Regions from separate parts of the Homo sapiens genome. Here region 1 is linked to region 2. The links come from fine-mapping of genetic effects on gene expression. Tissue or cell type: lung. Region 2 holds a variant in brackets; the other region holds the start of a gene. All regions are shown on one strand. Distances are from middle to middle.

Region 1 (5,000 bases), 170 kb before region 2:
CTTTGCTTGCTTGGGCTGCTTGACTTCTCACCAAAATAAAATGGAACCATAAAACAAAAATGACCTTGTGGTTAAGACAGTGGTAATAATCCCTTATTTTCCTTCTTCATCCCAATCTCATCCATTCAGCATAGAAGAGGAGATTGCCCAGTTGGAGAGGCTGTAGTCCTAGAGGTTTATGGGTGGCTGTCACTCATAACAGAAAAGAGAAAATTGGAGTTTGTGAGGAAAGTCAGAAAAGTGGAAGAGCTCATTTTATTTCTCTTTCCCGTGGATACTCGACTGAGGGCTTCCACAGTCTCTTTGGTCTGTATTAAAGTTTTTCTGGGATCTGGAGTTCATCATGAGCAATGTTTGGCCCTGGGCTGCTTTGCAAGAGATTTTAGAAACTCTTGGGTTAGGTTTATACTTGCCCTAGGTTTATACTTAGGGCATTGGGTGCTTGCTTATGGATTTCTTTTTTCTTTTTTCTTTTTTTTCAGATAGGGTCTCACTCTGTTGCCCAGGCTGGAGTGCAGTGGCACCATCAATGCTCACTGCAGCCTTAACCCCCACCTCAGCCTCCTGAGTAGCTGGAACTACAGGCGCACACCATTATGCCCGGCTAATTTTTGGTATTTTTTGTAGAGACAGGGTTTTGCCATGTTGTCCAGGATGGTCTCAAACTCTTGAGCTCATGAAATCTGACTGCCTTGGCCTCCCAAAGTGCTGGGATTACAGGTGAAAGCCACTGCACCTGGCTGCTTATAGACATTTAAATGCCTCAGGGTGGTCTATCCTGTCGGCTGAGTGATTAGCCCACTGGAAGAGGAACCCCAGCAAGGCTTGGAGGAAGAAGATGGAGGTAAGGCTGTTTAGGCCCTGGGGAGAAGACAGGTGTCTCAGAGATGATGTCACCTTGGCTTCTGGGCCATTGAGGAATCATGGGTTGAGCAAGCTACAGACAGAGTACTGAGTCCATGACTTCCTACTGGGTCAGAGTCAATGAGGCACAGGGAGTCAAAAAAGGTACTGAGGCAATCACCACATGCTGCCATTTGCAATGCCCTCTGCTGGTCACCAGCTACTCCAGTGAATGGAAATTGTAAAATGTCTGTCTTTGGACAAGGTGCTGCAGATTCCTGAGGGTTAAGAAACAGAATTCATAATGTTCAGAAACATGGAGAAGGAATCAGTCATTCTGAAGGCTGGAAGTAATACAGTGGTTGTGCAGATTTTGACCAAGGACAACTTCATATTGTGTCTTCACTTGAACATTTACCTATTGAATATCCTCAACAAAAGTTTAACAATTAATTTATTAAACAACAGAGATTTTTTTTAAATCAATGTTCATATGACAGGAGAAGACAAAGTAGCAAGCAAAAATAATGATATTATTTGTTGGCGTATAAATTTTCTCTGACTCTCCACTGCAAAGACTGCTTTATATTCACTGAATATACTTAAAAAAGAGAGAGAAAAAAGGACAAGAACACTTTTAGAGTAAGCAGCATTTGGCAATCACAGAGACTTTGGCATCAGGCAGGGCTGAATTCTATTACTAGTTCTGCCTCTTACTAGCTGCATGACCTCTGAGCTACGGTATTCTCCCCTATAAATGGGGATGATAGTAGGAATTGCTGTGAGGATTAAATGAGATAATTTATGCAAAGCTATAAACCCAGGGCATGACATAGTAAGTGCTTAATAAACACTAGAATAACTAGAGAAACAAGAACAACAATAAAATAAGCTATAGTATTAGCAATGGTTATGTTCACATCCTTCAAAGCAGAATTCCATTGAGTTTGGAGAATTGGCAGCAGAAATGAACCCTAGCAGGTCCGTCCCCTAGAAGAGATTTCCAGGCTCAGATGAAGCTAAAACTACATTTCCCAGAAGGCCCTGGGCCAAGTGTGTGGTTTCCTCTTATTTCCGGGTCTGTCAGGTGACTCTCCCGTGGCGCCATGGCGGAAGCAGAGGAGCAGGTAAAGGGTGCAGGTGGTAGTTGAGGGCACAGGGATATAGAGACTAGGGTGGGCTGTTTGGGGAGGGTGGAGTGGAGTGGGTGGAGGTGCGGAGCTGCTGGAATAGCGCAAGGCAGGTCCGCGGCAGGGCGGGGTGGGATGGCGAAAGTTGGTTTCGGGGAGCAGAGAGGATGCCAGCCCCGGGAGGGCACCTAGGGAAAGCGCTCTGACACACCCCCGCGTTCGGGCTGCCTTTCCTCGGGCCCCATCCCTGTGGCCTTTGCCCAGGGAAATTTTGGCATGAAGGCAGGCCCGGCTACCTCAGGGACTGACTGCCTGTGGGAGGAGGAAGAGAGGCCGGGTGACTGAAATTTAAGTTGCTTTCCACTTGAAGTAGGACAATAAGAACTAGGAGAGAGTAGACGATGAGTTTTGTTTTGTATCTATTGGAGTTAGGTACAGAGCTGGAGCACTGTTGCGGTGCAGCAGGGATTAAATGCATCCGTTCTGGAGCAAAAATGCCTGGGGTCCAAGTGCTGGTTCCTTTTCTTACCCAATGTGCTACTTTGAGCTACTTATTTAACTTTCCAGTGTGAGATGGGGGTAATAATAAGGCCGTCCTCAGAGGGTGGTTTAAGATGGAGAGAGGAGTTTATACACAAAGTTAGAGTACTTAGAACTGTTGGGCTTAGTAAAAATTAAATGGGATTATTTGTTGCTGGTAGTATCCAGTCAACAACTGGCAACGTGGCACTGAAGTTTAGGGTAGAAATTGGTGATGGGAATATGAATTATTTTCATATAGCAGTAGTGGTAATCACACATTTTATGAAATGACGAAGTAAAATAAAAAAGACAAAAAAGAGAAGCAGACCAAAAAAGAGGCTAGAACTTGGGGGAGATAACTTAAGTTTCCATTTCCAGTGTTATTTCAGTTGGATACTGTTTTTCTTCACAAGTTAACAGGGCTGTCAGTTGCAGTCATTGTCTCTAAACAGTGACTTGATGATGGGCTGTTTAGTATCATAAGAGTCATTTACCTAGTTCAATAATTTTTACTATTTTCAACATACTTCATTTGTTTTTACTTCATAGTGAAAATTTGTTCTGTATATATTTTATATATGCCAATAATTGAGACGTTTGACTAGGTAGAAATTTGGTTTGGCTGGTCCTTGTGATAACAAGATAACAAAGTCTCTTATCTAACACTAGAGACTCCTATTTCCATTCTAGCAGTTCAAAGGAAAACACTCATTAAGAACATATCATTTCATGACTGCCATTGCTCCTTTGAATAAGGGTGAGATTGTTTTTCACATTGTGCATCTTTATTTCATGTTGAAATGTTTGTTTTATGGTTTGATTTGAAAGCAAAAAACTGAGTTTCATATGTTCTTAGATATAGTGGAATAGAAATGGAGAGAGTTGCTCCTAGAAAAACCATTGTTTTTTCTTCCATTGAAAAAAACCTATGAAATATTTACCACTGTTTAGTGCAGAAGAAGAATTTAACAAAGTTGTCTGATATAAAAATGACACATACAAAATTAGGGATATAATAATGTTTCACATTTGTACATTATTTTCTAGTTTTAAAAACCCTTCCATATTGCATTTGGTCTTCCCAAAAGAATTCTATGAGGTAAATGTTTACTCTCATACATGGGTGAAACACCTCTGATATTCTAGACTTTCCAGGGGCTTCTAATCTTATTCAGAGGAAAAGCCACAGCCATTACGGTAGCCTGGTTGTCCCACAGGACCTTGACCCAGCTGCCCTTAGCCACCTTTTCTTGACCTCATTTTTCCCACTACTCTCCTTCCCTTCTGTGACTCTGCATCAGCTGTACTGGCTCTCTTAGTCTTCAAAAAGCCAGGCAGGTTCCTATCTCAGGGCCTCTTTGCTCATGCTGTTCCTTTTTGAGGAACCCTGATATTTACAGGCTTCCTCATTTCCTTCATGTCTTTGTCCAAGTGTTCTTTTTCATTGCGACCTTCCCTGACCATGCTTTGAAACCTTCCTGCATTATTTTTCCCTATAATGTGCATCACCGTTTGACATACTGTATTATAAAATTTGTTTTTTTTTTTTTCCCTGTATATTTCTGTGTACCTCTTACCACAGAGCTTGGAACATCCTGACAAGGATTTGTTCACTGCTGTATGTCCAATACCTAGAATATTGCTTGTTACTTAATAAATTTGTGTTAAATGATTGACTTTTACTGATAAACAAATTGAAATTCAGGCAACTTGAGTAACGTGCTCAGGCTTATATCTATAATATAATAAATCTCCAGTCCTCTGTCTCCATAGCTCATGACTTTTCACTAGAATACCCTACCTTTTTAAAATATATGTAAGAACCTAAATCTAAATAGTTTTTTTACTTTATGAAGTAGAATTAGCCCTTTCCATTTTAATGATTTTCCCTCAAGCCACCATTCCACTTTGATGCTTTAACAGCCAATATGTAGTTGGAGTGGGCATTCTCCTCTCCAGTGGTGTCAGTATCTTAAAAAGACTAGTCGTGGACCAGGCACAATGGCCCATACCTGTAATCCCAGCACTTTGGGAGGCCAAGGTGGGGCGATTGTTTGAGCCCAGGAGTTCGAGACGAGCCTGGGCAACATAGCAAAACCCTATCTCTACAAAAATTACAAAAATTAGCCAGGCATGGTGGTGTGTAGTCCCAGCTACTCGGGAGGCTGAGGTGGGAGGATTGCTTGAGTCAAGAGGGTCGGGGCAGCAGTGAGCCATGATCGTGCCACTGCACTTCAGTCTGGGCAACAGAGCAAGACCCTGTTTAAAAAAAAAACGAAAAACAAACAAAAAAAAACCCAGCAGTCTGTTGTAAATGGCTGAAAGACACATTCACAAATTGTTCAGTTCTTTTTTTTAAAAGAAAGTAAGTAATTGTACCTAATCTTATCCTTTATAGATTAAAAATGGTTAGGCTTTTCTCTGATTTGTTTTTGCATTTCACAGTAGGAAGCCATTGAAATCTGATGACGGTAGTAGGGCTTTATTATACCATTTTTTTAAAGC
Region 2 (5,264 bases):
GCATTGGGTACAAAGCTGAATTGCCTTTAGGCCAACACCTGCCTAGTTAGGTTTCTCTACATTTCTCTCTGGAGCAGGATGTTCAGCTTTGGGCACTGGTTTGGGTCACAGGATTACAAAACTTTCAAAGATCACTACAGAAACTTAGCCTTTACAAGATGGACACAACACTCAGGAGTTTCCACTGTGATGGAAACTCCTCTGGACTTGTGTTATTGTGGTGATCGACCCCCATATTTGTATCCTTTTACACTTGGCAGAATCATGCCACGTGGTTCTCCCAGCAGGCCCTCGCCCCTGCTTTGCAGATGAGAAAGTTGAAGCTAGAAGATGTTGCATGATTTGCCCATGTCATGCAGTAGAGCCAGGATTCCAAGCCTGTGCACTTGGTGCTGCTCTGCCTCCTACAATTTGGCAGTTTTAAGTTTTCTTTTCATGGGTAATGCTTGCCATTACTCTTGCTTTTGATTTATGTTTTATTTTGTCTGTATCTATGACCAAGACTAGGGTTATGAAGTTTTGTTTTTATTTTTTATTTTTATTTTTTTGAGACGGAGTCTTGCTCTGTCGCCAGGCTGGAGTGCAGTGGCGTGATCTCAGCTCACTGCAAACTCCACCTCTCTAGTTCAAACAATTCTCCTGCATCAGCCTCCTGAGTAGCTGGGATTACAGACACGTGCCACCATACCCAGCTAATTTTTGTATTTTTAGTAGAGACAGTTTATCCATGTTGGCCAGGATAGTCTTCATCTCCTGACCTCATGATCCGCCTGCCTCGGCCTCCCAAAGTGCTGGCATGGCAGGTGTGAGCCACCGCGCCTGGCCTGTTTTTATTTTAGTTTTTTAAAGATAGATAATTCTCTCCCCAGCTACCAATCTAAGGGAGGCATTGCCCAACTTCCTTTTCCACCAACTTTCAAAAGTGGTGCGAATGTGGAATCTCTGCATATTGAAAATAAGGTCAACTCACCTGATGAGGGAGGGAAAATCCACCCTGTACTGTTCTTTTTCTTGAGATAGAAGCTTTGTAGATGAGATTTGCCACTCCCTATAATTAGGTTTAACTATTTGTGAATGCTTTTGTTTTTAATCCATGTATAAGACAAATATGTGCCAAAACTTTTTGGTGCTCATGCTTTCAGTTTTACAATTATGATTCTCATCCTCCTTTCTATTCTAGCAGTGTCTGTGAAGTGCCTTGAGGTACTTCATTTATGTTATCTCTGGATAAAAAGGGACTATCTACATAGTGCTGTTGTGTGGTCTTCCACATCATATCCTGTGTATCTCTCACTGCTGGGCCCATTTGGTCTCTGGAGATGCATTCATTGTACTGGCAGTTTATGCCAGAGTCACATACAGAATTGGCATGGAAGACAAATAGGCAACTGTTGTCTTTTAAAGAGCGGTGGACATGGTATTTGCAGACGTGGGCTCCTGTTCTGGCTTTGCCATTAACAAGCCTATTGAGACTTTGGTAAGGCACTTCAGCTTTCTGGAGCTTGGCTTCCCAGTTAGATTAAGCCAGTGTTTGTGAAGTCTGGCTGCACACCAGTATCATCTGGATTCTTGTATACGTTACATAGTTTCAGGCACCCAGCCCAGATCTGCTGAATGAGACTCTCTTGGGAAGGACTAGGGAGCATGTCCTTAAACCACCTTGATATTTCTTACACACCTAGTCTGGCACTAGTCTATGTATTGAAATTTGAGAACCTTGAGATTAGATGATCTCTAAAATATCTTTTGTTTCTAAAGTTCTTAACAGAGGCGTTTTATAAATATCTCTTTACATATTGAATACAGCTGCATATTTAATGTTAACTTAATATTTTAATGTAAGCCTTAATATTTATTTTGGGATCTAATAAAGCAGCTTAGATTTTTAGGTATAATTGGGGTTTATTTTTCACGGTTTTTTCTTTTGCCTCAAAAATGACATTTATTTAAAGAAAAAAAATGACAAATTGTCCATCCCTTGACTCCCTTCCCTCCCCTGCCCTGTTCCTCCCAACTGCCCCTTGGATTGAACCCTGGCCGGGGCTAGGTAGCAGGACAGCCCTTCTCAGATGAAGTCAGCAACACTGATGGGTGTCTTCTTAACAGAGGGGCTGTCAGAGGCCTTAATGTCTCATGGAATAGTTGTTTTCAAAGTGCCATATACTTGATGACTTATAAACACATTTATTCAGATA[C/T]ATGAGTACCTCCTGTGTCAGACAGTATGTTCTGTGCTAACAGGGCCTCCATTTGGTCTCATAGACCTGGGGATGAGCGAGACACAGCCCTTTGTTCATGCTGCTCATGATCTAAATTGATGTTTCTGGGAGAAGTAAAATGCCTTAACACTTCCATTTTGTTAAACTACGCACACCATACACACAGACACACACACATACACATATACACATGTACACACACAGAGACACACACATGTACACACACATACCTCATCCAAACTGATAAACTGATTTCAGACATCTCCATGCCTTCCAAAGTTATTTTCCCAAATTTGCATTTGCTGCAGTCCCCATAGTCCTTTATTTCCCATATCTCTATTTTGCAATCCAAATGGGATAAGAGGAAATAATGGCTTCTTTCTTACTAACCTTTTTTTGGGCCTACGTGGGTTTCTTTTTGACTCTCAGTATATAAGCTCCTAATTTTCTTCTAAGAGAGAGTTTTTGAATTTATATGTTCATGAAATAAACTTTTAAGACCAAATGAGATTTGTTGTTTTCCTTTTGAAATTATTTCAGTTTTGCCTTATCACAGCTTTTAGGTGACATAGGTGGCCTGTGACAACCAGCTGTAGCTTTTAAAATTAATTTGGTACATCCATACTTTGTGCTATTAGAAATTTAAATACAATTGTGTTTATAAGATTGTTTCTGAACTCCAACATAAGACCTTAGGATCTCTTTCCCTTCGTATTTCTCTGCAGTTCATCATTTTTATAAGAATCCCAGCCGAAAGCAAAGCTTTTTCAAGAAGAATTCAAGTCCCATAGCATTGTGACCTAAAGGAAGGATTAGAAATGAGGGGAAAAGTTTCTCAGTCTACCCTGTGTCATATTGGGGGCTTTTAAAACCAGGTAGCTGTCTGTCATTTGCAGTTCTAATGATAAGCATTGCAGTATGAACAAGGCAATGTCAGCAAAATGTTTAGTGTTCGAAGAATCTTTTAAAATAAAAATTTCAGAAACTTGGCAACTTTTGATGGCATTTTTCGCATGGCCGCTGTTTCTAATGAACCATAATAACTTTGCTGATATACAGTTCTTTTATTGCTTTATAAAATCTCTGTGGGTCTGGTGTTTTGCTTTTGGTTGGGATTATTATCAATGATGATGAACTGCAGAGAAATAAGGAGAAAGGGGGAAGATAAGGCAAATCTAAGTTCTCATGTTGATTTTCAACAGTCGTGTTGTAAATTCATTCTTATTTAAATTTACAGTAGCACAAAATATAATATGTAACAGGTTGTTTATAGAAGCCATAGCTGGTTGACTTCAAAATGACGAAAAGGGAAGAGTAAAGGTCACGTTGATAAAATATGTAATTTAGAAAAACTTAGAACTATGGAAGGAAACAAAGTAATATCAAGAAAACAAGAATCCTGGAGTAGGATGTAAGAAGAAATTGACCCCTAGATTTGAATAATCTTGGAAAAATATAGGAAAGTCCTGTAAGGAAAATAAATCTCTGAAAGATAATATTGTACTTTCTAAGCTATGCCTACAAGTATTTTTTGAGATGAAAATTAATACCATTATGAAGTTGAGGAAAGAAAAGACTGGTTTATCCTCAGTGAAATTCTTTTTGTTTTGTTTTGAGACAGGGCCTTACTTTGTTGCCCAGGCTGGAGCATGGCAGTGGTGCAGTCACAGCTCACTGTAGCCTTGACCTCCCGGGCTCAAGTGATCCTTTCACTTCAACCTCTGGAGTAGTTGGAACTACAGGCATGCGCCACTATGCCTGGCTAATTTTTTTTATTTTAATTCTTTGTTGAGACAGGGTCTCACTATGTTGCCCAGGCTGGGCTTGAACTCCTGGGCTCAAGAGATCCTCCTATCACAGCCTCTCAAAGTGCTGGGATTATAAGTGTGAGCTACCACAACCATCCGATTGTCAGTGATACTCTAATAAGAGACATAGGTTACAAAGCAAAGGTTAATAATGGTGCTGTTTAATTTACCAAGTAGAGATATTTCATAGAGATGTTTCAAACTAGTTTTAAGTTCTGAAAGTGATATCAGAGGCTGTCCAACACAGAGAATAAGAAACCAGGGTAAAACAGGAGGAAACAGGTGAGAAAGTTTTTAGTGGGTTAAAAATGATTGATCTTTGAAAGGCCAGTTAGACATACTTTGGAAAACAAAAACTACTTTTGGTGTGAAGGAGGACATAATCTTCAAAACTGCATGCTTATAAGCTTCTGTAGTCTATAAACCTTCAGGAAACATCACAAAATGTATTTGCAAATTCCATAAAGTTTAAGAAAAAGGCACGGGGAAACAACCAGCATAACCGTAAAAAACAAAGTCCTTGCAGACTAAGTTTTCAACACCTGAAATAAACAAAGAATACGAGTTTATATCAATATCTTCGAAAACTCAGAAGAACTGTACAATTTTCTAGGAAAATAATAAGTTGTAAAAGTTTACTCAAGCAAATAGAATAGACCTATAATCATTAACTAAATTACATTGGTAGTCAAAATGTATAGCTACAATAAAGGCACTTATTCCATAGACAGTTTTAGAGACAAGTTTTATCCTTTTAAAAAATAGCTGGCTGGATACGGTGGTTCATGCCTGTAATCTCGTCACTTTGGGAGGCTGAGGTGAACGGATGGCTTGAGCTCAGCAGTTTGAGATAAGCCTGAGCAACATGGTGAAAACCTGTCTGTACTAAAAATACATAAATTAGCTGGGCGTGATGGCTCATGCCTGTGGTCCCAGCTACATGGGAGGCTGAGGCAGGAGGATCACTTAAGTGCAGGAGGTCAAGGCTGCAGTGAGTTCTGATCATGCTACTGTACTTCAGCCTGGGTGGCAGAGCAAGACCTTGTCAAAAAAAATTAATTAAAAATAATAAAACTAAATAAAAAGCAGCTTCTGTGTTACATTTACTTTTCCAGATAATTGAATGGAAAAGTTCCTCAGTTCCTTATGGAATGCTAGTGTAACCCTAATACCAGCATTACGTGAGGGCAGTATGAGAAAATTATAGCCCTATCTTTTTTTTAAAAACACAAATGCAAAA

What was found. PIP is the estimated chance that this variant, and not a neighbour inherited with it, causes the effect.
Region 1: it holds the start of VPS41, and the variant in region 2 is fine-mapped to the expression of VPS41 in lung (TOPMed, PIP 0.94).

Annotation. Positions count from the first base shown.
Region 1 is chr7:38,906,124-38,911,123 of GRCh38, reverse strand. VPS41 (VPS41 subunit of HOPS complex) reads left to right here and starts at 1,933. Exons shown (of 29, transcript NM_014396.4): 1 at 1,933-1,970. The coding sequence starts at 1,950. RefSeq lists an enhancer at 1,826-1,925.
Region 2 is chr7:38,732,655-38,737,918 of GRCh38, reverse strand. All of the region lies in intron 25 of VPS41 (VPS41 subunit of HOPS complex), which reads left to right. Among named protein-coding and RNA genes, the nearest start is that of AMPH, 100 kb to the right of the region's middle. The variant C/T (reference allele first, on the strand shown) is at 2,196.